7 linked regions of the Homo sapiens genome follow. Changing the gene in region 1 together with any one later gene gives a genetic interaction. Each region holds a gene or a part of one and is shown in the gene's direction. Other genes may lie near its edges. The genes, in order: PTEN, TTC31, NFU1, SAR1A, CAND1, TMCO6 and IGF2BP1.

Region 1 (4,404 bases):
TTAATTTAAGAAGAAAGTCTTCATCCTTATCCTACCAACCCCCATTCCCTGAGCATATTTATCATTACTAGTCCCAGCATATTTGCTCCCATATTTCCTATGCTTACCTGTGAAGATTTTCATAACTTTTTCCTTGCTTTTTACTGTCACTGTTGGTTCTGTGATTTATGACAGATACTGCTCTTGTAGGAATGCTGGCTTTGACTGAAATTTGTTACTGCTTTTGTATTTAAAACTTTTTTTTTATTATAAGTAGAATTATGGAACAGTAGTAGAAAAAGTTTGACTTTTGTAATCAGAGATACTGAGCTTGAGTTCTGGCTCTTTCATTTGTATACTGTTATTTGGGGCAAGTTTTTTAATGCTCTTAAGTCTTAGCTTTCTCATATATAAAATGGAGATAATAACAGTTATCACGTGATTGTGAGGATGAAACAAAAAAAAGTGGAAACTCTTTGTAAGGTGTGTTCATCTGGTTGACACTTAGTAGTCATTACTTCCACTTTCCGTCCATATAGTCCTCTTAACAGTAATATTTGAGAGGCATTTTTATTAAAGCAGTCTTAAGGAGTGTTCGTCAAACCACATGTTCTGGGATCCTGAGAAAGTAGGGGAAGTTTAGAGAACTGAAGCTGCACAAAACTAATGTTTATTTTCTGTTGTGTTGTCCTGAGACCAGCTTCTTAGATTGTGTTTCCTAGTCCTACATCTCTGATTCCTTATAAAATATTCCATTATGAATTCTTCACTATTGACAATTTCTCCCCTTTTATCTTAAAAGTACCAAAGAAAGTGTAAAATGTGACTGTCTTGTCAGTCCTCTTTTTCCTGTTTTTCATGTCAGTGGGTATGAAATTACTAGCAAGGATGCATATATGTGCATATGTCATTACTAAATGCATTTTCTTTCTAGAAAAACTCAATATACTAAATTGTACTAAAAAGGAAAAGCTTGTTTTGTTTTGAGTGGTAGTATGAAAGTTGTTTTATTTTAGGTCTGACCAGTTAGAAACCAATGGATTGTAGTTTATTTATAATTAGTTAAACCTTCATGTGAATTTGGTTTTGAATTACCTTTAAGGTAGAGAAGAAACTATATAGATGTTTTTCAGGGTTTCTAAATGTACAATACAGGTTCACAATCACTTATTTGAAACTCTTGGGGCCAAGTATGTTTCCATTTTCAGAAATTTTAGTTTTCAAAAGGTAGCACAGATAAATATACTTTTACATAAACACCCCAGTGGGGTGTGGGTCAGTACCTGAAATGAAATGTTTTACTCTTCGCTCTAAGTGTATTAAATATTATGTACAATCTTATTACTTCAGATCAGGATTTGCTGTAGTTGAGTTTGCCATAAAACTTAAGAGAAAATTTTAGATGTTTTGAACTTTTGGGATATTGAAATTGCAGGTTAAGGAGCTATGGACCTTTATTTGTTTTAAAATGCTAAGAGTTTATTTTAAGTAATTTTTAAAAAATTTGTTTTGCATAGTAGTTGGAGTTACCAGGGTACTGCTAACCACACTGATATGTAAGATCTCTTTCTGAGCCTTTTATTGTTTGTAAACATGGCCTGTTAATCATTAGAAAGCCAGTACATACTAACATATCACTGCTATTAAGACAAATATTAGCATACTCTAGTAATGACAAGTCAGCATTTTACTATTCTGTATTGATTTTACTTATTCTTTCATTACTCTCATACTGTAATTAAAACTTGCAATCTGAGAGACTGTTGAAAAAGGTGATCGTTGGCTTTTCAACAGGGAGTAAGGTCTGGTTTAAAAAAAAATTAGTAAGCATTTGGCCAAGTAGATTAACAACATTCAGTTTTTCTTTACTGTCCTTATGCTTTTACTATTTTTAACATATATCTTTTTGAAGAATAGTTTGAGAATTATGTATGCTTAACTATGAGATACAGATACTATTGAAACTAGTCAGTTGTTTATAGGTACTTGTAAAATTAAAAATATATTCCAATAGCATGCAGATTTTTCATAGAGGAAATTTGAAAGCATGGAAGCACCTGAATTTACAGTACTCTGTATTAGTGGCATCACAAGTTTTTAAGCAAATGTATTAGCTCTAATTGCATACACTTAATCTTTTAAGCTTTGGTTTTATTATTATAATATGGGGGTGATAACAGTATCTACTTAATAGAATTCTTGTTATTACATGAAATAATTAATGTTAAACACAGCATAATATGTGTCACATTATAAAGATTCAGGCAATGTTTGTTAGTATTAGTACTTTTTTTTCTTCCTAAGTGCAAAAGATAACTTTATATCACTTTTAAACTTTTCTTTTAGTTGTGCTGAAAGACATTATGACACCGCCAAATTTAATTGCAGAGGTAGGTATGAATGTACTGTACTATGTTGTATAACTTAAACCCGATAGACTGTATCTTACTGTCATAACAATAATGAGTCATCCAGATTATCGAGTGAGATACATATTTAAGAATTATCTTTAAAAATTTCAAAAATTTTAATTTTACTGTTGTGTTTTAGGAAAAAGTATTGCATAAAGCTATTAATATTGTCAGGAAGACTAAAGTGCAGCATAGACTAAGAATTAGGAAAATTCCTAGACTAAAAATAGTATAAGGAGAGGGTTTACCTACTATTTGAGGCAGTTGGTCTAATAGTAAGCAATCACAGGGAGAAAGCAGAACTACTTAACTCTTCTGTGTTGAGGAATGACATAAAAGGTAGGAAAGGATATAACAAATGTTGATAAGAGGAGTCTGATGGATGAGAGGAGGGAACTGCTTTAAATGAGTTTCTACTTCAGACATAAGTTAATTCTCAGAGCCCACAAAAACTTTCACTTTTATTTGTGAAATACAACTCAGTTCTCATGGCTTAACACTTTAAACCATGAGAAAACTGAAGAGTTGAGAAGCTTGGCAGATGCTGCTGTGATAGTCAAAAAGAAAGTGGGTGCCATGAGCTACTATTGATGTATTTGCCATTGATCCCTCCTGAAAATCTAGAATGGACTTTCAGACAAATGGTTTGAAAATTCTAAATCACTAATGATTGAGATTTAGTATAGGTTTACTAAGAACGGGTTTTTTTTGTTTTTGTTTTTGGTGGATTTAGGCTGTTGCTTACTAAGCAAAGCAGGCTTTAGTTGAGGTTTATCTTGCTTTAAACAGATATTTAACAGATTTTCCTGGAGGTTTTTGTGTACCACTGGGAAAATGAAGTTAGGCAGATGACTAAGTGAAAGCTGTCCTGCTGACTCCTTATAATGATAGTCATTGTCTACCAGAAGATCTCTCCTGTCACACCAAAGGATAATTGATTATATCCTGTACCATATTATGAGTCACCTGATTGGAGATATAAGACATACTTCTCACATATTTAGATGACACAGGTTAGTACATTGAATATCAGCCAGGGTTTTTAAGGATCTTAATAGAGTGGAACTAAGGTAGAAACTATTAAGAGCAATTAATAGTGATATATCTATAGTCCTGTTTCTAAACAAGTTTTTTTAAAAACCTCAACTCTGACTATAGTGAACAGAGAAGTCTTGGACTCTTACAATTCATGTGAGAAGACCTGAAACTTTGATAACAATTATATACATTTTGTGAGTAATTTCTTTGGTGTATGCCTTCACATATCTCTGGTATGTGACCTATGCTGCAGTCCATTGAGCATAGATTCCCAGAATGTATTCTCCTGCAGAAAATGGAGGAAAATAATACTTGGCTTCCCTAATGATTACATGTGTATACAACACTAACATTTGCAAGACCACCTTTAAATAACACACTTAGCATTTTTATTTTATGAAATGTAATATGTAGTTCTTTGCATAGTTTATCCTATTAGTAATCTATTCTGTCTTTGGAATATGTTTTGTGATGATGAAATAAATACTATAAATAGTATTATTCCTTTTGCATTGAGAGTCCTGACGAAATGTCCATGTGACAGTTCATTTTGGGTTTAGCTCTACCTCTAATATGTGACCTATGCTACCAGTCCGTATAGCGTAAATTCCCAGAATATATCCTCCTGAATAAAATGGGGGAAAATAATACCTGGCTTCCTTAATGATTATATTTAAGACTTATCAAGAGACTATTTTCTATTTAACAATTAGAAAGTTAAGCAATACATTATTTTTCTCTGGAATCCAGTGTTTCTTTTAAATACCTGTTAAGTTTGTATGCAACATTTCTAAAGTTACCTACTTGTTAATTAAAAATTCAAGAGTTTTTTTTTCTTATTCTGAGGTTATCTTTTTACCACAGTTGCACAATATCCTTTTGAAGACCATAACCCACCACAGCTAGAACTTATCAAACCCTTTTGTGAAGATCTTGACCAATGGCTAAGTGAAGATGACAATCATGTTGCAGCAAT
Region 2 (4,404 bases), on another chromosome or scaffold:
ACCTCAGCCTCCCAAAATGCTGGGATTACAGGCGTGAGCCACCGCACCTGGCCCAATTTTGTATTTTTGTACAGATTGCGTTTCTCCATGTTGGTCATGCTGATCTCAAACTCCAGACCTCAGGTGATCCACCCTCCTTGACTTCCCAAAGTGCTGGGATTACAGGCTTGAGCCACCATGCCTGGCCGTCTCAGCACTATTTCATTTGATTGTTTCATTCCCCAGATCAAGTCCACTGCTATCACTGACAAGATAAAGTCTACACTCACGGCCAGGCGCAGTGGCTCACACCTGTAATCCTAGCACTTTGGGAGGTTGATGCAGGCGGATCATGAGGTCAGGAGATGGAGACCATCCTGGCCAACATGGTGAAACACCGTCTCTACTAAAATACAAAAAATTAGCTGGGCATGGTGGTGGGCGCCTATAGTCCCAGCTACTTGGGAGGCTGAGGCAAGGGAATTGCTTGAACCCAGGAGATGGAGGTTGCAGTGAGCCAAGGTTGCGCCATTGCATTCCAGCCTGGAGACAGGGTTAGACTCCGTCTCAAAAAAAAAAAAAGTTCACACTCACTGTGTCACACATGTTTCTTCACACACAGTTCCTGGCTCTGTCTCTATTGGAATAGCCTCCTCACCAATCTCTGTTTACTCAGCACACACACAATACCACCTATGTACTAGATACTGTTGTAGGTACTGAGAAACAGCAGTAAATCAAACAGACCAAAATCTTTCTGTTCAACAAATTAGGAGCATCTAATGAGGGCAACCAGTGACCAAATAAATAAACAACATAGTATGTCAAACATGAGAAGTACAAAGAAAAAGCAAGAAGGAGGATAGGGAGTGCTGAGTGGAGTTGGGAAGTTTCTCCTTCTAAAAGTAGTGGTCAGGCCAAGTGTGGTGGCTCACGCCTGTAATCCCAGCACTTTGGGAGGCTGAGGCACATGGATCACCTGAGGTCAGGAGTTTGAGACCAGCCTGACCAACATGAAGAAACCCCGTTTCTACTAAAAGATACAAAATTAGCTGGGCATGGTGGTGCATGCCTGTAATCCCAGCTACTCTGGAGGCCGAGGCAGGAGAATCACTTGAACCCTGGAGGCGGAGGTTGCGGTGAGCCAAGTTCATGCCATTGCACTCCAGCCTGGGCAACAAGGGCGAAACTCCACCTCAAAAAAAAAAAAAAAGGAGTGTTCAGAGAAGGCCTCTCTGAGAAAGTGACATTTACATAGAGATCTAAAAAGGACGAAGGAGTGAGCTGTTCACTGGGGAAAAAGCATTCTAGGCAAAGTAAAGTGCAAAGCCCTAAGATGGGAGCACAGTTGGTATGTTGTGGGAACTTCCAAGGACACTGCTGTGGCTGGAGGAGGGTAACAAGATAGGAGAAGATTCACAATGATATTGGGGGACCAGATCATATGTAGTGGCCATGTAGTGAATTCAGAGAGCAGCACAGACTGTGGTTTGGGGACAGGTAGTAGAAGGTCAAGGAAGTACCTGTTTGTTTGTTTTTTTGAGACGTAGTCTCGCTCTGTTGCCCAGGCTGGAGTGCAGTGGCGAGATCTCGGCTCACCACAACCTCCACTTCCCAGTTTCAAGCAATTCTCCTACCTCAGCCTCCCAAGTAGCTGGGATTACAGATGCGTGCCACCACACCTGCTTAATTTTTGTATTTTTAGTAGAGACGGGTTTCACCATGTTGGTCAGGCTGGTCTCGAACTCCTGACCTCAAGTGATCTGCTTGCCTTGGCCTCCCGAATTGCTGGGATTACAGGTGTGAGCCACTGCACCCGGCTTTTTATTTTTTTAAATTTATTTTTATTTTTTATTTTTAATGATGACTACACTGGTTTGAGGAGGAAGAGAGAAGAAATACAGTATATATTTGAGTGGCACATCCTGAGGAGGCTGCCTGACATGGGGCAGAGAGCATGCTTTATTTATTTATTATTAATTAATTAATTTATTTATTTTTATGAGACAGAGTCTCACTCTGTCACCCAGGCTGGTGTGCAGTGGTGTGATCTTGGCTACTGCAACATCTGCCTCCCAAGTTCGAGCAATTCTCGTGCCTCAGCCTCCTGAGTAGCTGGGACTACAGGCATGTGCCACCATGCCCAGCTAATTTTTGTATCTTTAGTATAGATGGGGTTTCGCCATGTTGGCCAGGCTGGTCTAAAACTCTTGGCCTCAAGTGACCCACCCGTCTTGGCCTCCCAAAGTGCTGGGATTACAGGCGTGAGCCACCATGCCCAGCCATATTTATTTATCGAGACAGGGTCTCCCTCTGTTACCCAGGCTTCAGTGCAGTGGCATGATCATAGTTCACTGCAGCCTTGAACTCCTGGGCTCAAACAGTCCTTCGATTTCAGCCTCCCGAGTAGCTGGGACTATAGGCGTCCGCACCACACCTGGCTCATTATTTATGCTTATGTTGCAGTTAGGAAGGTGACACAAACCCACCAGGAAATTGAATTTTAAGTATAAGACTGATGAAAGTGCCTAGCAGTATTGGAGATGCTGTTAAGCCAGGACTATCTTCTGAGGGAAGCCTTGGATCTAAAATTGTTTAGAAAATTGAATATACCTTAGTCATCTGAAGTCCTGCCTACAGATTTTTTTTTAGCACGCTGGAGTTTCTAAGTTTGTGGCTTCTAACTCAATAAGTCCAAAAGATCATTGGCTTCTAAGCGTCTCAGTCAGTCCTGCTCTGTTTAGGCCTGATTAGGCAAATAGGAATGTGATCATTCCTGTCTTTGAAGCTTATACTCCCTGAGGAAATGACTCCCATCAGGACCACAGAATGTGTGGGCCAGGCCTTAAAGAGTCTTGCCTTATTTTGTGAATGAGGGAGAGGTCCAAAGAAGTTAAATGACTTCTCCAGAATCAAACAGGCAGGTAGTGTCAGAGTGAAAATTTGGACAAGCTGGACATGATGGTGCAAACCTGAAGTCCCATCTACTCAGGAGGCTCAGGCAGGAGGATCGCTTGAGCCTAGGTGTTTGGGTCTAGCCTGGGCAACACAGCAAGACCCTGTCTCAGAAACAAACAAAAAATAGTCGGCCGGGCACAGGGGCTCACACCTGCAATCCCAGCACTTTGGGAGGCTGAGGCGGGTGGATCACTTGAGGTCAAGAGTTCAAGACAACTTGGCCAACATGGTGAAACCGCCTCTCTACTAAAAATACAAATGGTATTGTGGCGTGTGCCTGTAATCCCAGCTACTTGGGAGGGTGAGGCAGGAGAATCGCTTGAACACGGGAGGCAGAGGTTGCAGTGAGTTGAGATCATACCACTGCACTCCAGCCTGGGTGACAGAGCAAGAATCCACCTCAAAAGAAAAAATAACCTCAGATGCAAGTGGCTCCACTCCAGCACAATGCCCTTTGGAATTCCATGCTGCCTGGCCAATGAGGAGAGCAATAGAAAGCAATCAATAACAAGTTTCTAAATTGTGTAACACAGATAATGTGGTTGCAGGTTAGTTGGAGGAGGCAGAGATAATTGGAGATGAAAGGGTCTGGGAAGGCTTTGAAGGGAGATAGAATTTGAACTGGACCTTGAAGGTGAGGCAAGATGTGAGAAAGAAGCTCAAGAGTTAGGAGGGATTGGAGAGCAGCTGGGGGAAGGCCCCAAGGCTGGAGGGAGCCTGGTGGTGGGAGGGAGGACAGCAGTGAAGCAGGGGAGGATTAAAAGGAGGGCTGGAAAGGTCAGCCTGGGAGCCTTTTGGAAGGCTCTGAATCGTAGGCTGAGGAATTAGGTTCAACTCTGCCTATGGCCTTGGCAGTGGGGGATTATTGGATGTCCCTGAGTAGGGAAGTAATTTCTTAGAGCTTAGTTTTGTGGAGAAACAGATGAGGTGCAGAGGAGCGGCCAGCCAGGAGCTGCTGTACTTGTTTAGGTGTGAGCTAGCCTCAGGGTGGGTTATGTGGAGCTGTTCATACTGCAGATATGACAGGGGGCCTAGCTGGAAGAGCAGGTGGGAGGGCTTCATTCCAGGGGCCTCAGTGTGGCTAACTCAGGTTGAGGAGAGAAGATCCTGGATGGTAGAGGAGGCCAGGTTGAATACCATACTCAACCCTTGGGAAGGCAGGAAAGCAGCGAGGGGAGGTGATTCACTACAATAGCTGGGGGCAGCAGATTTTGCGGTGCTGAGGAGGGAGAGGTCAGAGCCAGTGAGAGTCTCTGGGCTGGATAGCTGGTTGGTGGCTGCCATGGTGGAGAGATCAAGCCAGCGAAGCCCTTGCTCTCTCCAGGAACTGCCCCCAACACCAGCCTCCCCTCCCCTCCCCTCCCCTCCCAGGACATAGTGGATTTTCTTCGACGGCTTGTGGAGAGTGATCCCCAGGGCCTGCACCGGATCCATGTGGATGGGAGCAGCGGGCGGCTGCAGCTGTGG
Region 3 (4,404 bases), on another chromosome or scaffold:
AAAAGTGTTTTACATTATGTGTGTGTATGCGTGAGATACAAATGTTTGATGGGATAGTTTTCACTATTTTTTCACCCTTACAATAGATAATAGATTCTTAAATTTCCTTTCTTCATCTCTTTTTGTTGTTCTGTTTTATTTTATTACATAAAACCCTGTCACTACATACATGATTCCACAACTCACTACTGGGTTTTAAAAACCCTACCCTAGAAGTTACTTGCACATGTGCCCAAGATACGTGCAGGGATGTATTTACTGTCATAGACATCTGAGACATACAAGTGAAGAAAGCAACTTGCAGAACAGTGAGTCCAATATGATACTATGTATATAAAAGCAAAAACCACAGAACAACAAATGCACTGACAAAAAGATCTGGAAGAATACACACGAAACTGATAACAGGATTTGGTAGGGGTAGTCAAGGGGCATTTAAATTTTATTGTTTGAAACATTTACATCAAGAATGAGTTCATATTTTGTATTAAAAAAGTAAAAGTAAAAAAGCCCCAATTAATTCAGTTATAGATTAGTTAGAGATTATTTCTGTCAGATGTTCAGTTGGCAAAATCTCTTTTCAAGTTAGTCTTTTGAAAATAGTCTGTTTAGGCTGGGTGTGGTGGCTCATGCCTGTAATCCCAGCACTTTGGGAGGTGGGTGGATCACCTGAGGTCAGGAGTTGAGACCAGCCTGGGCAACATGGTGAAACCCCATCTCTACTAAAATACAAAAATTAGCTGGGCGTGGTGGTGGGCGCCTGTAATCCCAGCTACTTGGGAGGCTGAGGCAGGAAAATTGCTTGAACCCAGGAGGCGGAGGTTGCAATGAGCCAAGATCTCACCACTGCACTCCAGCCTGGGGGACAGAGGGTGACTCCGTCTCAAAAGAGAAAAAAAAAAAAATAGTCTGTTTAGTGCTCAGTACAGTGCCTGGCACTTAGTAGGTGTCAAATATTGGTTGAATGAATGATTGATAGTATAGATATAGCAGTCTATTCATTCACCAGGTGATGGACATTTCCATATTTTTCTGTATGTGTGGCTATTTTAAATGAAGCTGCTATGAAGATTTATGTACAAGTCTTTGTGGAGCACGAGTTTTTATTTCTTTTGGGTAAATAACTAGGAGTGGGATTGCTAAATCGTAGAGTAGGAATATAAAACAAAATTGGCCATGAGTTGATCATTGTTAAAGCTGCAAAGGATATGTGGAGAATTTTTTACTTTTCTCTACTTTTGTGTATGTTTAAACTTTTCCATAATCAAGCATTTTAATATCTCTTATTTTTTCTTTTTTTGCAGGCAGTTATTTAGGATTGAAGGAGTAAAAAGTGTCTTCTTTGGACCAGATTTCATCACTGTCACAAAGGTAAACATAGGATTATATAAAATAAGACTTGAAATACTCTTCATTTTTTTCTGAGTCCAATGCCTCTCTCTCCAACATTTCCATTCTTTCTGTTCTTTAATTTTTATATTTTATTTTTGAGACAGGGTCTTACTCTCTTGTCCTCTAAATGTCACAAGAATCAAGCGAAATATGCTATGTTTTTCTTTTTCTTTTCTTTTTCTTTTTTTTGAGATGAAGTCTTGCTCTTGTCCCCCAGGCTGGAGTGTGATGGTGCGATCTTGGCTCACTGCCACCTCTGCCTCCCAGGTCCAAGTGATTCTCCTGCCTCGGCGCCCCCCCCCGCCACCCTGAGTAGCTGGGATTGCAGGCGCCTGCCACCATGCCCAGCTAATTTTTATATTTTTAGTAGAGACAGGGTTTCGCCATGTTGGCCAGGCTGGTCTAGAACTCCCGACCTCAGGTGATCCACCCGCCTCGGCCTCCAAATTGCTGGGATTACAGGCGTGAGCCACCACGCCTATAAAAAATATGCTATGTTTTTCAACAGTCAAGGCAGTATCTGCTAGAAAGGGCTGTTCCATTTTTGATGTCTACTAGATTAATGGGACATGAACTATTTAAATTTGAACTATGTATCCTTTTAAATCTGTTAATTGACATATATCCACGGAACTTAAATCACTTGCCTGATAGTGTGTGAAAATCAAAAATATTTATTAAACTCCCCTTAAGCAAATTGAAAGGATTAGTCTGAGCTCTTTATGTCCTTAAAAGTGGACATACTGGGGGCCGGGTGTGGTGGCTCACGCCTGTAATCCCAGCACTTTGGGAGGCCGAGGTGGGCAGATCATGAGGTCAGGAGATCAAAACCATTCTGGCTAACATGGTGAAACCCCGTCTCTACTAAAAATACAAAAAAAAAGTAGCCGGGCATGGTGGCGGGCGCCTGTAGCCCCAGCTACTCAGGAGGCTGAAGCAGGAGAATGGCGTGAACCCGGGAGGCGGAGCTTGCAGTGAGCGGAGATCGGGCCACTGCACTCCAGCCTGGGCGACAGAGCGAGACTGCATCTCAAAAAAGAAAAAAAGGGGACATACTGGGTTAGTGACATGTTAAATCTAGTCATCTAGTCCAGTATTCTCTTGCGGCTATTTATTTAGAGACAAAGTCTCACTCCACACCCAGGTCAGAGTGCAGTGGCATGATCTCAGCTCACTGCAGCCTAAGCCTCTTGAGCTTAAGCAGTCATCTCACCTCAGCCTCCCTAGTAGCTGGGACTATACGTGCATACCACCATGTCCAACTAATTTTTGTATTTTTTGTAGAGATAGGGTTTCGCCATGTTTTCCAGGCTGGTCTCAAATTTCTGAGCTCAAACAATCTGCTCACCTCGGCCTCCCAAAGTGCTGGGATTACCGGTGTGAACCACCACGTCCAGCCCCCCATTCTTCAGTTTTCTTTCTTCCATATTTTTTAAGGAGAAGAAGGGATGAACATTTATTTAATATATTCAATGTCGGATATGGCCCTAGTGCTTTACATATGTTATCTAATTCTTACAACTAGTTATTTTATAAGTGGGAAATTATATATTTATTTTTTAAAGTTATTTAGTTCTTTTACGTATAGCCTATGCTATATAAAAATTTTTATAGGTAAAAATGTGATTATATCTTAAAGGGTTTTGGTTTTTTTTTTTTTCCTATTTTTCTTGATTAGATTTAGTAAGTCATCTTTTAGCTCTCTTACTTTCATTATTTAGTTACCCTATTTGAAATTGCCCTAGCTCTACAATTTTTTCTTAAGTGAAATGACATAACCAATAGATAATATCCCAAGTTAGGGTATATGTTGATACACATATATGTATGTGTGTGTGTATATCTATCTATCTACACATACATATAGATGGGATCTTGCTCTGTTTCCCCAGGCTGGAATACAGTAGTGCGATCATGGGTCACTGCAACCACTAACTCCCAGGCTCAAGCGATCCTGCTGTCTCAGCTTCCCGAGTAGCTGGGACTACAGGTGCATGCCACTATGCCCAGCTAATTTTTTTTTTATTTTTTTTTATTGTAGAGACAGTGTCCTTCTATGTTGCCCAGGCTGGTCTCAAACTCCTGGGCTCATGCAATCCTTCTGTCTCGGCCTCCCAAAATGTTGGGATTACAGGTGTGAGCCACCACGCCTGGCCCACGTTGGTATTTAATAGACGGAATACTGGATTTATTTTGTTTTCTTCCAGTAATGTTTCTCATCATGGACTATCACATTTTACTGAATGTCTTCAGCAATCGCCTGTTTCTATTTCTGATTTCCAGTTGATAATTAGACTTCTTTATGCATCATTTGTGTTATTTTTTTCTAAATATATATGTATATTTGCAGCTTATATGCTGCCCTTTTTTTCTCATTCAGACAACTTTAGAATATTTTTTCTTTTTATTACCAATATTTTCCTATTTAGTAGAGCCTGCTATTTACTGAAGATCTGAGGTAACACTCTGATTTGTTTTCCAAATAATTTATTACCTACAACTAGTTTCCATTCCCAATCACTAAGATATTTCACTAGTTTTACTTTTATAACCTTAGCAGTCCCCATTTATCTCACCTTTTATGTACTATCTCTATATTGTTTCCTTTTTTTGTTTTTTGAGATGGAGTCTCACTCCGTCGCCCAGGCTGGAGGGCAGTGGCACGATCTCGGCTCACTGCAACCTCCGCCTCCCGGGTTCAAGCGATTCTCCTTCCTTGGCCTCCCTAGTAGCTGGGATTACAGGCCTCTGCAACCACGCCGGCTAATTTTTGTATTATTAGTAGAGAAAGGTTTTCACCATGTTGGCCAGGCTGGTCTCAAACTCCTGACCTCAGGTGATCCACCCGCCTCGGCCTCCCCAAAGTGCTGGGATTACAGGCATGAGCCACCATGCCCAGCCAAATTTCTTTCATACCCTTTAAGTAATATATATAAGTAAATTTTTTGAATAGTTGTAGGCTGTTCCGTATACTTGATCAAGCAATTACATCCTATGTTTTTTTTAAGAGAA
Region 4 (3,547 bases), about 18 Mb from region 1:
TCTCCTGCCTCAGCCTTCTGCATAGCTGGGATTACAAGCAAGCGCTGCCGCGCCCAGCTGTTCATTTTATTCTTCATCTGGCATTCTTTGAATGTAAGGGGATTTTTTTGTGGGTAATGCTTTTACTGGTTACTGTTCATGAAAATTTTGAATGCAGTTGGTCATATCTAGTATAAAGCCCTGTGTTCAGATGCTCCTGCTGATGGAGAGGAGTAAAAGTGTGGACCTTCCATTTTTCTGCACCGCATCTGAGATACTAAAGCAAAAATTCAGCATGGCCAGACAATGCTGAGAAACCTTAAGACCCACCAGTGTGTCTAGATCCTACCCTCTTAATTTCATTCAGAGGTCATTTTGCTTATTACCAATATATGTAAACCTTTTAGTAGCTTTTGATAGCTATGAGAAACAATAGAAAAAGTAGTGTTAATATCAGTACCAGTTAAGTTATTTACTGGCTTGGGAACTTACTGCTATATCCTGAAAAGTATTCTTTTTTTGCTTTTTTGTTTCTTGAGACAGGGTCTTGCTCTGCCACCCAGGCTGGGGTGCAGTGACACAATCATAGCTCACGGCAGCCTCAAATTCCTGGGCTCAAGCAATCCTCTTGCCTCAGCCTCCCAAGTAGCTGGAACTACAAGCACGTGCCACCATGCCTGACTAATTTTAATTTTTTTTTTTTTTTTTTGTAGAGATGCAGGTCTCTCTATGTTACCCAGGCTGGTCTTGAACTCCTGAGGTCAGGGAGGAATCCCCCACCTCAGCCTTGCAAAATGCTGGGATTACAGGTGTGAGCCACGGGGGCCCGGCCTGAATAAGTATTCTTATTTTAAGAAAATCTATTTGTAAAATGAGTTTGGGTGTGATTATTCATGTATGAAAAGATTCTCTTCTTATCCCTTAATGGTTCTCTAAAATAGTGATGTCATTTCTTTTTATAAATTGAGACCCGTGTCTGCAAAAATGATTAAATATTGAGATAACATTGGTAAATGGAGCAGGGCAAGTGGTGCTGGCCAGTAGAATTTTGGGTGACTTTTGTTTTTTAGAGTTGTTTACAGGATAGATTAATATGTTTTTCATTCAAATCAATGTGCTTTTCATTCTTATTTTCTATTTAGTGCATCTAAGTGGCATTCTGATTCACATTATTGATAAGACTGATTTCCTAGAGTTGTTCTTCACTGGATGACAGCAGTCGTATGTCTAGGGAATGTGAATGAACCGCTGCCTGGAGGAGTAAGTCACACAGTAAAAGAAAGTGTAGGCATACCTCGGATATACTGTGAGTTTAGTTCCAGACTACTGAAATAAAACAAGTACAGTAAAGCAAGTAACACGAATATTTTGGTTTCCTAGTGCACATAAAAGTTACGTTTACACTATACTGTAGTCTGTTAAGTGTACAGTAGCATTACGTCTTAGAAAATACGTACCTTATTTAAAAAATACTTTATGGCTAAAAAATGCTAACAAGCATCGGAGCCTTCTGCGAGTCATAACCTCTTTGCTGGTTGGGGATCTTACCTCCATGTTACTCCACGTTGATAGCTGTTGACTGATCAGGTTGATGATTGCTAAAGGTTGGGATGGCTGTGGCAGTTTCTTAAAATAAGACAACAAGGAAGTTTGTTGCATCAGTTAATGCTTGTTTTCAAGAAAGATTTCTCTGTAGCATGCAATGCTGTTTGATAGCATTTTACCCAAAGCAGAATTTATTTCAAAATTGGAACCAGTCCTCTTAAACCCTGCTGCTGCTCAAGTAAGTTTATGTAAACTCAAGTAAGTTTTTGTAATTTTCTAAATTGTTGGTGTCATTTCAACAGTATTCATAGCATCTTCACCAGGACTAGATTCCATCTCAAAAAAACCACTTTTTTTGCTTATCCATAAGAAGCATCTCTTTATCCATTAGTTTGATCATGAAATTACAGCAGTTGTCACATCTTCAGGCTCTACTTCTAATTCTAGTTCTCTTGCTGTTTCTACCACATCTAAGGTTACTTCTTCCTCCAAAGTCTCGAACCCCTCAAAGTTTTCCACGAGGGTTGGAATCACTGTCTTCCTAACTCCTGTTAATATTGATATTTTGACCTCTTCCCGTGAATCATAACTGTTCTTACTGGTACCTAGAATGGTGACTCCTTTCCAGGAGGTTTTCAGTTTACTTTGCCCAGATCCAGCAGAGAAATCAGTCTATGGCATTGATGGCTTTGTGAAATATATTTCTTTTTTTTTTTTTTTTTTTTTGAGACGGAGTCTCGCTCTGTCGCCCAGGCTGGAGTGCAGTGGCGGGATCTCGGCTCACTGCAAGCTCCGCCTCCCGGGTTCACGCCATTCTCCTGCCTCAGCCTCCCAAGTAGCTGGGACCACAGGCGCCCGCCACTACGCCCGGCTAATTTTTTGTATTTTTAGTAGAGACGGGGTTTCACCGTTTTAGCCGGGATGGTCTCGATCTCCTGACCTCGTGATCCGCCCGCCTCGGCCTCCCAAAGGAAATATATTTCTTAAATGAAAGACTGGCAAATCGAAAATACTCCTTGATCCATGGGAAGCAGAATGGATGTTGTTAGTAGACATTAAAACAACATTAACTTCTTTCTGCACCTCCATCAAAGCCCATGGGTGACCAGGTGCGTTGTCAATGAGCAGTAATATCTTCAAATCTTTTTTTCTGAGCAATAGGTCTTCACAGTGGGCTTAAAATACTTAGTAAACCATGCTGTAAACAGATGTGTGGTAGGCAGAGTAGATTTAGTATAATTCTTTTTTTAATTGTAATTTTTTTAATTGGAAAACAAATACACAACTTGGAATGGATTTGAGGCAAATTGTGCCATAAGCACATTTTCTTTAAGTGGCTAAACAAAGTTTAAAAAGCAAGTAACAGTAAAAGAAAATGTTTCTGGTACAGGACCAGCAGTACAGAAAAAACAGTGTGTGAGGTACCTGGGAGTACCTGGATAATACACCCATTCTGCAGTAGTGCAACTTTTAAGTACATATTGTTGGCTGTCCGTAGTCCACACAGAGTTACAACTCCATACTTCAACACCATGCTGACAGTTCCTAAAGAAAACTACTTTAAAAAAAGGCATAACCCGGATGTTCCCTTATTTGACCAACTCCACCTAAGTTTAGATGTGCAGAAGGGCTTAGATATATCCGGAGTAAGCCACAGGCAACATGTTACTTCATCAGTTTTCTAAAATAAGGTTTCAGGGCAATGACAGTAAGGGAAGAACACATGGAGGAATGAAGTCCTGATTACCATACATGCATATTTTTTTTTGACAGTAGGGAGAAGCCTTTTACAGATAAGTTACAAACAAAAGGCAAATAAACAGTTTTGTGCAAGAAATTTAACACATTCTGTACAAGGTCTTCATTATGCTGTCATCATTTGTACAAACTCATAGTTTACTTGACCATCACCATCAGGATCTGCTTCCCTGATCATTTAATCAACTTCTTCATCTGTTAACTTCACTCCAAGGTTTGTCATCACATGGTGAAGTTCTACACCACTAATATAGCCATTGCCATC
Region 5 (3,952 bases), on another chromosome or scaffold:
ACAACATGCAACCATAAGAATGGATGAGATGGCCCTAAAAGAATAAGGATTACATATAATGAGAAGACGTGTGGGCTGAAATACCTAGTGAACAATATTTAAGGGAAACTGAAGTGCAAATGGCCTCACAGGTTTGTTTTTGTGTTTAAGACAAGGTCTCACTCTGTTGCCTGGACTGGAGTACATAGCACGAACATGGTTTACTGCACCTCAGCTTCCTGGGCACAAGTGATTCTCCCACCTCAGCCTCCCGAGTAGCTGGGAGTATAGGTGTGTGCCACCACGTCCAGCTAATTTTTTTATTTCCTTGTGGAGATGGGGTCTCATGACCTTGTCCAGGATGATCTCAAACTCCTGGGCTCAAGCAATCCTGTGTTGGCCTCCTAAACTGCTGAGATTATTGCAAGTGCCTCCTTGCCCAGCCACATGTTGTTGATTTCTTTTTTCTTTTTTTTTCTTTCTTAATTTTTTTTTTTTTTTTTTTTTTTGAGATTGATGGAGTCTTGCTTTGTCTCCCAGGCTGGAGTGCAGTGGCGCAATATCGGCTCACTGCAACCTCTGCCTCCCGGGTTCTAGCTATTCTCCTGCCTCAGCCTCCCAAGTAGCTGTGATTACAGGCGTGTGCCACCATGCCCAGCTAATTTTTGTATTTTTAGTAGAGATGGAGTTTTGCCATGTTGGCCAGGCTGGTTTCAAACTCCTGATCTTAGGTGATACACCCGCCTCGGCCTCCCAAAGTGCTGGGATTACAGGCGTGAGCCACGTCCCCCAGCCAGTTTCTTAATCTATACATCTAGCCCAGTCCATGCCCCTGTTTCAGACTATTATATCCAACCACCTGCTATACATCTCATAAAGGTATCTCAAACACAGCATATCTAAAGCTGAAGTCATCATCTTGCCCTGGTTTTTCCTGTCTCTTTGCTGATGGCATCCCATTTACCCAGTCATTCAAACTGGAAATCTAAAAGCCTCACTTAGCAAGAGTTTGGAGGCAGAATATGATAAAGAACAAGGACTCTGGGAGGCCAAGGCAGGTGGATTGCTTGAGGTCAAGAGTTCGAGACCAGTCTGGCCAACATGGCGAAACCCCGTCTTTGCTAAAAAAACACAAAGAAATTAGCTAGACGTGGTGGCACATGCCTGTAGTCCCAGCTGTGTGGGAGGCTGAGGCAGGGGAATTGCTTGAACCTGGGAGGTGGAGGTTGCAGTGACCCAAGATTGCATGCACCACTGCACTCCAGCCTGGGTGACAAAGCGAGACCCTGTCTCAAAAAAAACAAGGACTCTACAGATAGATAGACATCATATATCATATTAGTTTGAATCCTGGCTGTTAGCTGTTAGACTTGGGCAAATAATTTAACCTCAACTTTCCCTATCTATAAAATGGGAATTAAAATATTTGCACCTTATAGGGTTATTGTGAGGATTAAATAGGAACATTGTATAAAGCACTTAAAACAGTACCTGGGACATACTAAGTAATATAATTGTTAACTCTTACTAGCATTCTGTCCCTTTTATTTCCTAAATATCTCTCATGCCCATCTCCTAAATATCTCTTTCCTAAATATCTCTCATGCTTTTGGCTTAAGACCTCTTTTCCTCCTTATCTATTGACTGGACTGCGGCAAATGCCTGCTAATCGTTATTTTTGTGTTCATTCATTTAGCAAGCCAATTTATTACGCGCTTAGGGTGCTGCCAGGGCTACAAAAGCTGTTGAGACTGTACTTGATATGAAGAAGCTTGCTGATTATCATGGGAAGACTGACATAAGGAAGCACCATAAAATTCTGCTGTATGAGAGGTATACACGGGATACTGGGGGTTAATAATTGAGGGTATGGTCCATTCAACATGAGTGAGACAGAAACAATTCATAAAGGAGATGAAATGTCTTGAGGAATGAGCTCTTAGAAGAATAGTTTTCAAATGAGTGTGCATCACAGTCACCTGTAAGACTTATTAAAACAGATCGCTGGGCCCTACACCCAGAGGCTGTGGTTCAGTAGGCTGTAGTAAACCAGTAATTTGTATTTCTATGACGTTCCCAGGTTCTAATGCTGTTCCCCAAGGCCACACCTTGGAAACCACCACATTAAAATACCCAGAAGGCATTAATTCCCAGTCCTTCCTCTACACAGCTGCAAAACAATGGTCCTGACCATTTCATCTTTGCACTACATCCTTCACTGTCTCTCTTTTGCCCATAGGATAAGTACAAACTAGATCTGGTTACTGCCTGCCCCACCAGCCTCAGCATCTCTCACAACTAGGACTAACTTTTTCTTCTGACAACTATAAAATATTTCCCTTGCCTTCTCAAGTTTGCTCAAGGTCAAGTTATGCCTTTTGCCTGGAATGACTTGACTTCTCTTTTGTTTTACTTAGCTGGCTGCTTTTCATCTTGTAGGTTAGGTCAAGGACTCCAGGAAGTCTTCCCTGGACAAGTAATGAAGAGGGCATAATCCAAGGGCCAACTCCCATGTTTGGAACCTGACTCCATTTTCAGGCACGTAATATTGTCAAATTCCTTTTAAAAGCACCTGTCTGTCTGTTAACGTTGGTGCAGATACTGCTATTCCCCTCCTCCATACCATTGCTGATGGTTACTGAGGGTATGGGAAGGGCCGACTAGTCCAGCTGTTCACAAACAGCCCTTAATGTCAAACTGAATACTGCCAACGTAGTTCCAGTTTCTGTATCTAAAGACTCAGCTTGGAGTCACTTGTCTGGACTAAAAGTAACCCCTCCTTGTCTGGTTTGTGACTTTCTGTACTCTGATGCCCCCAGCTTTCTGCCTTCTAGAAATTTGTCAGAATTTCCAAAATTCTTGGGCCTTCCTTCTTGCTCTATATATGGTTTTGGATTCATTCCTTTTAAAAAATATTTACTGTCATTTCAGTAGAATTTTGACACAATAAATATAAGCACATCAGATTTTTTGCCATCTTGAAGCATCTGTTATTTCTTGGTCTTTGGTAATGCTTTACTGAGAAACATTATAATATAGTTGTAAAAGCTCAGGCTCTAAACCTGGGTTTAAATCTGGTTCTACCACTTCTTGAGAGTGGGACTTTGGGCAAATTATTAATGTATCTAGTGTTACCAGTGGAGGGGCTTGACTACGAATTGTCCAGGTCCTGGGCATTTTGAACAAAGAACTGAACAAAACGCGCAAAGTAGCAGAGGAATGAAATGCAGGAATGAAGCAGCAAAAGCAGGAATTTTATGAAAGCGAGAAAGCACTCTACTGGGTGGGAGTGGGCCTGAGCAAGTGGCTCAAGGGCCCAGTTACAAAGTTTTCTGGGCTTTAAGTATCCCATTTGAGGTTCTTATCATCTACCCCTTATCTGGATGAAGTATTTGGTCTGTGGCTAAAGGCTGAGGTGAATTGGCACCCTATGCACACGAAGAGATGGTCCCTGTGTGGCCCTCAGCCAATCCAGGGTACTCTTCCTTTCCATCTCAGATGTGGTGGAAGTGGGAGGGTTGTAGAGAGAGTAGCCTTTGATCCTTAGTTACTTCGCTTGGGGAGATGGGGTTTTTCCCTTTGGGTTTAGCTTTAGGAAGTTTGTGTTGATTGGCCTTAGGATTCCTGCCCCCAGACCCAGGTATTTTCTTTTAGATCCAGCTCTGGGAAGTCAGCGTGATTTGGCCTTAGATTTCCTGCCCCCAGACCTTGGTGATTTCTCTTTTAAAAAGTTAGCACAAATTGCCCTTAAGTTCCCTGTCTCCAGAGCCTGTTCTCCTGCCTCACTAGGTCTATTTCCTCATTAGTCAAATTGAGTTATATGTAGTAGTCTGAAAGAAGAGTCTCCCCCAACATACTAAGAAGGTTAACACACACACACATGAGACAGGGCAGGGACTCCTCTTAGGGGCCTGCCGGATCCCTCCAAGCATGGAAATTAAGGAAAATTCCAAGCACCTAGCTAGCCTTGTGA
Region 6 (5,175 bases), on another chromosome or scaffold:
GCCATGATGGGAAGTAGGGGTTGAACGTGCCTCATTATACCTCTCTACCGTTAACATCAACACAGACTTTAAGTTTGATAAGAAACATTTTACAACCCATTCTCTCTGAAGCCTAGGATTTGAAGGTTTCCTCTGCAAATAAGAACTTGGGTCTCCACAATCCTTTATCTTAACCCAGACATTCCTTTCTATTGATTTCAGGTCTTTAGAGAAACTCAACCAATTGTCAACCAGAAAAATTTAAAATCTACCTATAAGCTGGAAGCCCCCCACCGCCCCACTTCGAGTTGTCCCGCCTTTCTGTTGTCCCACAAACCAATGTCTTTCTCTCTTTCCCCCTCCCCTCTCTTCCCTTCCTCCTTTCCTCTTTTCTTTTCTTTCTTTCTTTTCTCCCTTTCTTTCTTTCTTTCTTTCTTCCTTCCTTTCTTTCTTTTCTTTCTCTTAGGAATAACGCTCAAAATCCTAAGGGAAATTGAACACTCGAACAAAGGATTATTAGCAAAGCAATTTTACTTCTGCTCAGAGGGGTGTCTGCTTGGCCAGTCGCCATGAGAGCACACCTGAACAAAGGGGCACGAGAGCCTTTATTCCTGACGCAAGTCCTGCCCCTGTACCCTTTCCCCATTGGCCGGGGTCGGGTCATACAATCTGAACTAATCCCGGTTGGCTAAACATTTGATTTTTTTAGGTAATGTGGGCACGTAAAAGAAAGTGGAGAGGAAAGGGGAAGGGGTGCCTGTAATGAACTAGAAAGTTAGTCCTCTTTCCAAATAATGAAAGGAATGTGAGCTGGTACTGATAACGTCTGGTACTGATAACGTCTTGTACTGTGGCGTGCCTCGGCATCTAACGAAGGCAAAAAGGAGAAAAAGGAAAACAAAAGTGTGTGTGGGGGGGAGTACTATGAATTAAAGAATAAAAGATTGATCTAATTATTTGAAGAGAAACCTCATCATATCCCAGATTTCTTTCTTTCTTTCTTTCTTTTTTTTTTTTTTGAGACGGAGTTTCGCTCTTGTACCCCAGGCAATGGGGCGCGATCTCGGCCCACTGCAATCTCCGCCTCCCGGGTTCAAACGATTCTCCTGCCTCAGGCTCCCGAGTAGCTGGGATTACAGGCACCCACCACTACTCCCGGCTAATTTTTGTATTTTTAGTAAAGATGGGGTTTCACCATGTTGGCCAGGCTGGTCTCAAATTCCTGACCTCAGCTGATCCACCCGCCCAGGCCTCCCAAAGTGCTGGGATTACAGGCATGAGCCACCAGGCCCGGCCCAACCAGTGTATTTCTTGAATGAACTGAAGTCTCATATCTCCCTAAAATATGTAAAACCAAGCTGTACCGGACCACCTTGGGCACATGTTCTCAGGACCTCCTGAGGGCTGTGTCAAGGGCCATGGTCACTCATATTTGGCTCAGAATAAGTCTCTTCAAATATTTTACAGAGTTGGACTCTTTTCGTTGACAATTCAATGACGCTTCAAGCGTTTTTGGCAGCTCTCATCAGTGGGATCCGCATTAATAGTGAAACGGCATCATGGCGCTTCCCGCAGTTCGGGATTGTTTTGAACTTTCATCTAGAGCGTATTGTGGGTGGGGAAGTTGTGTTTGCTGAGTAGATTGTGACACTGCTGGCTTGGGTCACTCGAGGTCAGGGATGAGAGACTTTTTTTCCTAGAATTGGTAAGACAGGAAATCAATCAGAGGCAGAGCGACGCCTCTGGCTCTGGTCTAGTGGTGCAGCGTCTCTAGCCCTCGCCCCGCCCACCGTCCCCGCGAGGCGTCCACTCGCCGAGCCCCGCCCTCACCCAGCACCCACCCCGCTCCTCGCGCCCTCCCCGCCTGTTCCCGCCCTGTGCTGAGGCTGCGCAGTCGGTGCCATCTTCTACGCCCCTGGGAGCGTTGTGGCTGCTGTTTCCTTCGGCTTTCCTCCTCCTGCTCCACCATGTGGAGCCGACGGCAGGGCCGCCTCAGGCCCACGGTCTGCGGGGTGGAGGAGCTACGGCGCCGCCGGCGGGAGCGGGAGGCAGGTGTGGGCGGCCGAGGGAGCGCGGGGGTATATGGCGGTCGGGGATAAGTTGAGACCCCAGGCTCGGAGCCGCGGGTTCTGGGTTGTGGTCGTCCTTCCCACGCTCAGCCGGCTCCTCTGCCCCCAGCACTGCGGAAGGCGCGGAGGGAGCAGCAGCTGGTCAGCAAGAGGCTGCTGAGAAACGACGCCCCAGAGGAAGCTGGAGAGGGATGTGTGGCTGCGATCCTCGGGGAAACCGAGGTGAGGGGGCAAGGTAGGGTGCGCTGGAGTCCACGCCCGCTGGCGCCAGACTCCCGGGAGTACTCGAGGTCTGCCCCAAACCTGAACGCAATCCACTCTACACTTCCACGCATCCAGTGGGTCAAGCCAGAAACAGGGGAATCATCCTGCACAACTCTTTGACCCACAACCCCATATCGATCCATCATCAAGTCCTAGTTGTTTACCTCCTGAAGAGCTTTGGAGTCTTTACATGCCTCACCATCGAAGCTGCCACCACCACCTCCTCTCTGGATACTACTGCAGTCTCCTAAAAGGTCACCCTGCATCTATGCTTGTCACCGTCACTACGTCCTTTAAAAACACGTGGAGACCAAAATCTTTCCTGTGCCTTGCAAAGCATAGCATGGTCTAGCCTCTTCCTAACTCAAATTTTATCAGTTTTCTCATCCTACCCACCGTCCTCTTTTTAGTTCCTGCAACGATATATCGGATTTGTGTCTCAAGCCCTTGGCATTCGCTACGTCTAACGTTCGTTTCTTTTGGTATTCTGTCTTGAGAGCCTATTTTTTTTCTTTTCTTTTCTTTTTTTTTTTTTGAGACTCTCGCTCTGTCGCCAGGCTGGAGTGCAGTGGCATGATCTCGGCTCACTGCAACATCCGCCTCCCGGGTTCAAGCGATTCTCCTGCCTCAGCCTCCCGAGTAGCAGGGATTACAGGCGCGCGCCACCACTAATTTTTGTATTTTAAGTAGAGGCGGGGTTTCATCATGTTTGTCAGGCTGGTCTGGAACACCTGGCCTCATGATCCACCCGCCTTGGCCTCCCAAAGTGCTGGGATTACAGGCGTGAGCCACTGTGCCCGGCCACCTACTTGTTTCTTGTAGAATATTAATCATTATCTAATGGTTTGTCTATTGTTATTTCTCCAACTAGACTTTAATTGCAGGAAAACCTAGATCCTGTGTTGTCATTGAAAACCCGGTTGCCTGCACATTATCTGGCATATAGTTAAGTACTCAGTGTTTATTGAATGAGTGAATGAAAGGATTTATTCAGTAAGCATTGAGTATCCCCTGTATTTGTATTATGTTTACGTACATAGTTTACCGTACATACCATGTTGACATATATATTATCAACTTATTCCTAGGTCATACTATTCCATTGTATGCTTACTTTATGCCAGGACACTGTGCTGGTCACTGAGGTACACAAAGATGAAAGGATAGAGTCCTTTTCTTTGAGGTGCTCACAGCCCGGTGAAGAAGACAGATGTCACAAGGGAAGGAAACATGAGGAACAAGAGAAACTCCTAAGTCTCTCAAAAAGAGCTAACTTCCCAGAGGAAATGAGGAGCAGAAACCTGAAGAGAGTGGGAAGCTGGAGAGGGTATCCAGGCAGAAGAAATAGCATGTGCAAAAGCTCGGAAATGTAAAAAAAAGAAAAAGAAAAAGCTCATGTTAGGCTGGTTGTTGTTAGAGTGTAGGTTGCATGGGGAGAATGGCTAGAGGAGTAGGTTTTGCCAGGCTGAGAGGTTTAAATATCCTTGAAAGAACCCTGTATGAAGGCAGGATAGATATTGTTATTCTCATTTTCAGGTGAGGAAACTTAGGTTCAGGTCCCATATGGAGTAAGTGGCAGGTATGGTATTAGAACTCAGTTCTGATTCTCTGTCCACTCCACTGCAAGGTAGATGCTTATTAGTTGCATTAGTGTGAATGACAAGTTCTGAAGGTGTGATATTGGAAGGCTCACAGGTGAAGTGGGCAGAGAGAGACTTAGGACTTGCTTTCTGTGAACCGTGTGTTCTCCTTTCCCTGCCCTGAACTCCAGGTGCAGCAGTTCCTGCGGCAAGCCCAGCGGGGGACAGAGGAAAAGGAGAGAGAGGGGGCTCTGGTCAGCCTTCGTCGAGGCTTGCAGCACCCTGAAACACAGCAAACCTTCATCCGGTCAGTGTGGATGGTGTGGTGGAGGGAGGAGTTGGGGCTCTGAGGGATGGACCACAAGCTAAGCAGGGCTCTGGTACTCACTCACATAGGCTGGAGGGCAGCATGCGGACCCTGGTCGGGCTCCTGACCAGCAACCAGGCCCTGCTGCAGCTTGAGGCGGCTCGGTGCCTGCATGAGCTCTCTCACTCCGAGCAGTCCACTGTTGCTGAGGCCTGCCTGCCAGCCACTTCTTACCTCCTCACCTACCTCTCCAGTCACAGCTCAGACTTCATAGTAAGCCCTGTCCCTTCCTATCTTGTTCTTGGTTTAGATTTTAAAATTGTGCTTTTGGGACCAGTTTGAGCTGGCAGGTAGGAGGAAGAAAACATGTTTGCCCTTATGCCTACAGCCATGGCTACACCCATCATCTCCCCACCCTCTTGTGAGCCGCAAGGATAGCTGCTCCAGCGTCCCCATCACCTCCCCTCCCCATCTCCCCACACGCAGCCTGGCATGAAACAGGCCAAGCCCAGTGCTTTTGTTGCCTGTTCTCAGGAGCTGTGTCTGTATACACTGGGTAACCTGATCGTGGAGAGTGAGGCTGTGAGAAGGCAGCTCCTGCCACAGGGCATTGTTCCAGCCTTGGCTGCCTGCATCCAGGTGACTCCTTTCTTCCTCCCTGGGCAACCCTTCCTTTGCTCCTCCCCACATGCTCCATCTACTTTGGTTAGGTAGCTCCAGCCTCTGCCCTGTGCCAAGGGGCTGAAAGTCTCTGAAGACCTGATGACCCAGCTTCCAGTCAGATCCTTACCCTGTCTACTTCCAGTCCCCCCATGTGGCTGTGCTGGAAGCTCTCGGATATGCCTTGTCCCAGCTTCTACAGGCTGAGGAAGCTCCAGAGAAGATCATTCCGTGAGTAAAATTGTCTTTAGATGTGCAGCCAGAGGTGACCCACTCAGTAGTATAGCTCCCGGATGCCTGAATGATTTCCAAAGCT
Region 7 (3,500 bases), on another chromosome or scaffold:
GAGGGGTCGGAGACGGGTGGTAGACTCAGCTCAGGGCAAGGCTATATTTGCTTTTGGAGTTGCCGGCCTTCCCTTCCCCTTTCAAAAAAGAGAGAGAGTAGAGAGAGAGAAAGTGGCGGCGGCGCTGCAGGCTCTTCCTGGAGCGCTCGCCCCGGCCCGGCGGCCCTAACCTTCCCCGCCCGCCCCCGCGCCAGTCCCAGCCCGGCAATCTCGTCTCGCTCTGAGGTGGGGCCGCCCGCCTGCCTTCTCTTAACAAGCCCCTGACAGAGAACATCCGCTGGCCTGGGTCTCCGAGGAGGACTTCCCCTCTCAGATCCCTGAGACCCCAGGAGATCCCAGGCCGCTTGTGGTGCGCCTTAGTCCTGGGAACCCCAGATCGCAAACCTCGCAGCAGATACCCCACGAGAGGGTTCCCCCTCACCGGCTGCGGGCTGCGGGCTGCAGACCCTTTCCAGCACCTGGGCTGCCTCAGGAGCTCTCCATTCTAAGGCAAAAAGCCAGTGGGTAAATGTGAAGTGAAAAGAGGCAAGAAGAGAGGAAGAGTAGGTAAAGGGAAAATAGGATGAGACAGTTGGAGAGAAAATGGAAGTGCAAGTAGCTGTTCCTCTCTCCCAGTAGCTGGGGTCTTGGCCTGAGAAATAGAACCTTAAAGAGTTAAGTGTCAATTTAAGTAACCTGCAATCTTTACAAAATGAGCTGTTTGTGTCTGTCCACAGGTCCTGAAGGCTGACCGAAACAATAACAGAGGCAGTAATAGTAGTCAGAGGTTCTATCCATGGATTTTGTTTATCTTGTAAAAGAGAGACAACAGGCCTTCCAGTTGTCCAGGGTCTCAGCCAGTCTTCGACTCCATGTTAGTGTAAAACTTCTGCACCCCATCCATTTCCACCTTTCCTCTCCTCCCCTATACCTTTTTAAATGCCTGTCAAAACAAAAAGCAGAAGGAAAGGTCTCTCAAACCTGTACTCAAGAAAGTGTATGCCCATTTGGTTACCGATAGTTTGGTTAAAAATGATCCTGTAAGATACCACCTGACACACACCATCGCAAGGGCAAGGAGGCAATGCCAGCAGGAAGCTACGTAGTCCCCAGGTAGTGACTTCATTCTACTAGGAGAACTTGGATGGCCCTTCAGATTTTGATCAGAGGAGACTATGTACTTATTACTGGATAGAAGGGGGGTCATCCTACTATTAAAATTTATTGCAGAGCCTGCTTTGTAAGACCTGCTTACTACCTTGCAGCACAGTAGGTTTGCAATAATACAACAGGCTGGAACAAACTTTTGCTCTAACCATAGTTGACTGACAAAATATATGTTGATTACAGGTAAGTCACAGAAAAGTAGGTTTGGACCTCATACTTTTAATACAGTTGGAAAAAACCTGATTGCAACACACTGAAATGTAACTGTGTGCAGAACAAACACCATCAGAAATGCAGTCCTTTTGCATTTTGGGAAATCCAGGTTCCCAGGAGCATGGCTGGTCGTAAGCAAACTGCTTTTGACTGAAATAGAGAGCAAACAGCTCGATGATTAAGAGAAGTTTTGAGTGGATTGTGCAGATATTTTCAAGACCCCTTAGGACAAGTCTGGTTATTAGACAAGTGGCATTTTGGTGGCTGGAAGGCATGTAAGGGATGGTGTCTGATATGGGATGGCTGGAAATTTTGCTTATAGTTTAGAGGAGGGTTGTGGAGAAAAATCCCATAATAGAGGAGGCAGGAGAAGAGGGGAAGCTCTACATTTTCTCTTTCCCTTTCTACCATGTCTGGTTAGTGGATTCTAGTCAATCCTCTCTACATTTCCTTATGAAAAGAAGGTTAAGGAGAACTTCAAATTTTTTTTTTTTCATTTTGAGTTAATTTTGGTTAAAAACTCAATCACTCATTCAGGACAGGCACGGTGGCTCACATCTGCAATCCTAGCACTTCTGGAGGCCGAATAGGGCAGATTACATGAGGCCAGGAGTTCAAGACCAGCTTGGCCGACATGGTGAAACCCTGCCTGTACTAAAAATACAAAAATTAGCCAGGTGTGGTGGTGCATGCCTGTAGTCCCAGCTACTCGGGAGGCTGAGGCCAGAGAATTGCTTAAATCTGAGAGGTGGAGGTTGCAGTGAGCCGAGATCGCACCACTGCACTCCAGCTTGGGTAACAGCGAGACTGTGTCTCAAACAAAAACAAAAACCAACTCAATCACTCATTTGGATGTTTTGGCCACTTGAAATGGAAAATGTTAAGTCTGAGTGAAATTTGATTGGATAGTTTAGTTTAGTTGATTGGATATAGTTAGGATCTTTAAGGGGAGAAATCAGAGAATTCAGAAATATGTGTGTAATGGTTGTTTGTGTGGTCTGACCTCTTTGGCAAAGAGGAACAAGGAGGAAAGGAATCATTCAAAATTCTTAAGGCTCCAGGAGGGAAGAAGTGCTGTTAGGTCAGAGTCTTAATGACCTACCCTAGGTCTCTCACTCATCCTTTACTGGGGTCTGGAGGAAAGGTCTTCCTCCCAGGAGAATTCAGTGTTTAAAAGCTTGAGCTCAATTTCCGTAACTGTAAAGAAGTGGTCCTAATAGTAGTACACAATAGCTCTTATTGTTATTATTTTGTTGTAGATATTGACTTCTGTCCCTCCTGCCCTAGCCATTGTTTGTCCTCCTTTGAAGCTTTACAGTTGTATCCTACCCTGCCCCATATAGCTGTGGTTAGCTCCATGAGTATTAGAACTGATCAAGTGTACAGATGCCTGAAAATGTGTCCATGAGAGGTTGTCTTTGAACTGTGTGTGTGTCAGCTTGGGCTATATATCTAAGGCACTAGGAACAGTGATGGCTAGGCATGTTGAAGGGGATCTGTGCGTAGGGTGCTTTGGTAACTCTACCTGTATGTTGAAAGGAAAAGCCACCTTTTAGTGGAGAGAGATGAAGCTCACCAGGGCAACCCCACAGAGCCCCTAGATTATAGATTCCCCCAGTACATTCTCTGAGACAGAGGCTTGGAGAGATGAGGCGAGCATGGTGGATAATGCTATTAATTGTTCTTTAGGGGAAACAGGCCATTTATTCTGTTATCGTTTATGCCCTGAACTTGGTCCAGGTTCCTAGCTGAAATTTCACACTTTACGGCTACTGTCAAAGGTGTACATGTAGAGTAGGGACATTGGTGAGAGGGGAACTAACTCTGCATATAAGGTAGGTGTTGTAAGAATTCAGGATGAAGGGGACTGTAAGAATCCTCCTGGGGGTCTGAGGAAGGAAGAAATGAGAGTGACCTCCCCCATCTGCTGGGATGGGTATGTTCATTTTCATGTCCTGCTCTTGGTAAGCTAACAAAGTAGGCATTCAGGAACTGGGGATCCCTAGATACCCAGGGGGTGACTGCACACATTGTTCCCTACTTCTTCTGCTTCTGTAGTGTCCTCACATTCTCCCCCTGGTTCCCTGGTCTGGAACCAGTTCCCAGAGATGCACTCAGAACCCACCTTTATGCCCACTTCT

Evidence for each region.
Region 2: changes in PTEN (region 1) and TTC31 impair growth when combined (synthetic growth defect), as found in Homo sapiens cells (one large-scale study listed by BioGRID).
Region 3: changes in PTEN (region 1) and NFU1 together harm fitness more than expected from each alone (negative genetic interaction), as found in Homo sapiens cells (one large-scale study listed by BioGRID).
Region 4: changes in PTEN (region 1) and SAR1A together harm fitness less than expected from each alone (positive genetic interaction), as found in Homo sapiens cells (one large-scale study listed by BioGRID).
Region 5: changes in PTEN (region 1) and CAND1 together harm fitness more than expected from each alone (negative genetic interaction), as found in Homo sapiens cells (one large-scale study listed by BioGRID).
Region 6: changes in PTEN (region 1) and TMCO6 together harm fitness more than expected from each alone (negative genetic interaction), as found in Homo sapiens cells (one large-scale study listed by BioGRID).
Region 7: changes in PTEN (region 1) and IGF2BP1 together harm fitness more than expected from each alone (negative genetic interaction), as found in Homo sapiens cells (one large-scale study listed by BioGRID).

Annotation. Positions count from the first base shown.
Region 1 is NC_000010.11:87,928,721-87,933,124, forward strand, and holds part of PTEN (phosphatidylinositol 3,4,5-trisphosphate 3-phosphatase and dual-specificity protein phosphatase PTEN), read left to right. Parts: intron 1-2,325; coding exon 2,326-2,369; intron 2,370-4,292; coding exon 4,293-4,404. UniProt on the Homo sapiens protein: Dual-specificity protein phosphatase, dephosphorylating tyrosine-, serine- and threonine-phosphorylated proteins.
Region 2 is NC_000002.12:74,485,717-74,490,120, forward strand, and holds part of TTC31 (tetratricopeptide repeat protein 31), read left to right. Parts: intron 1-3,295; exon of another isoform or gene 3,296-3,571; intron 3,572-4,308; coding exon 4,309-4,404.
Region 3 is NC_000002.12:69,416,505-69,420,908, reverse strand, and holds part of NFU1 (NFU1 iron-sulfur cluster scaffold homolog, mitochondrial), read left to right. Parts: intron 1-1,304; coding exon 1,305-1,371; intron 1,372-4,404. UniProt on the Homo sapiens protein: Iron-sulfur cluster scaffold protein which can assemble [4Fe-4S] clusters and deliver them to target proteins.
Region 4 is NC_000010.11:70,163,968-70,167,514, reverse strand, and holds part of SAR1A (small COPII coat GTPase SAR1A), read left to right. Parts: intron 1-3,547. UniProt on the Homo sapiens protein: Small GTPase that cycles between an active GTP-bound and an inactive GDP-bound state and mainly functions in vesicle-mediated endoplasmic reticulum (ER) to Golgi transport.
Region 5 is NC_000012.12:67,317,009-67,320,960, forward strand, and holds the end of CAND1 (cullin-associated NEDD8-dissociated protein 1), read left to right. Parts: 3' UTR 1-2,945; downstream 2,946-3,952. UniProt on the Homo sapiens protein: Key assembly factor of SCF (SKP1-CUL1-F-box protein) E3 ubiquitin ligase complexes that promotes the exchange of the substrate-recognition F-box subunit in SCF complexes, thereby playing a key role in the cellular repertoire of SCF complexes.
Region 6 is NC_000005.10:140,637,582-140,642,756, forward strand, and holds the start of TMCO6 (transmembrane and coiled-coil domain-containing protein 6), read left to right. Parts: upstream 1-1,869; 5' UTR 1,870-1,946; coding exon 1,947-2,031; intron 2,032-2,157; coding exon 2,158-2,270; exon of another isoform or gene 2,271-2,283; intron 2,284-4,083; coding exon 4,084-4,199; intron 4,200-4,288; coding exon 4,289-4,472; intron 4,473-4,733; coding exon 4,734-4,838; intron 4,839-4,909; exon of another isoform or gene 4,910-5,004; coding exon 5,005-5,090; intron 5,091-5,175.
Region 7 is NC_000017.11:49,003,885-49,007,384, forward strand, and holds part of IGF2BP1 (insulin-like growth factor 2 mRNA-binding protein 1), read left to right. Parts: exon of another isoform or gene 1-922; intron 923-3,500. UniProt on the Homo sapiens protein: RNA-binding factor that recruits target transcripts to cytoplasmic protein-RNA complexes (mRNPs). This transcript 'caging' into mRNPs allows mRNA transport and transient storage.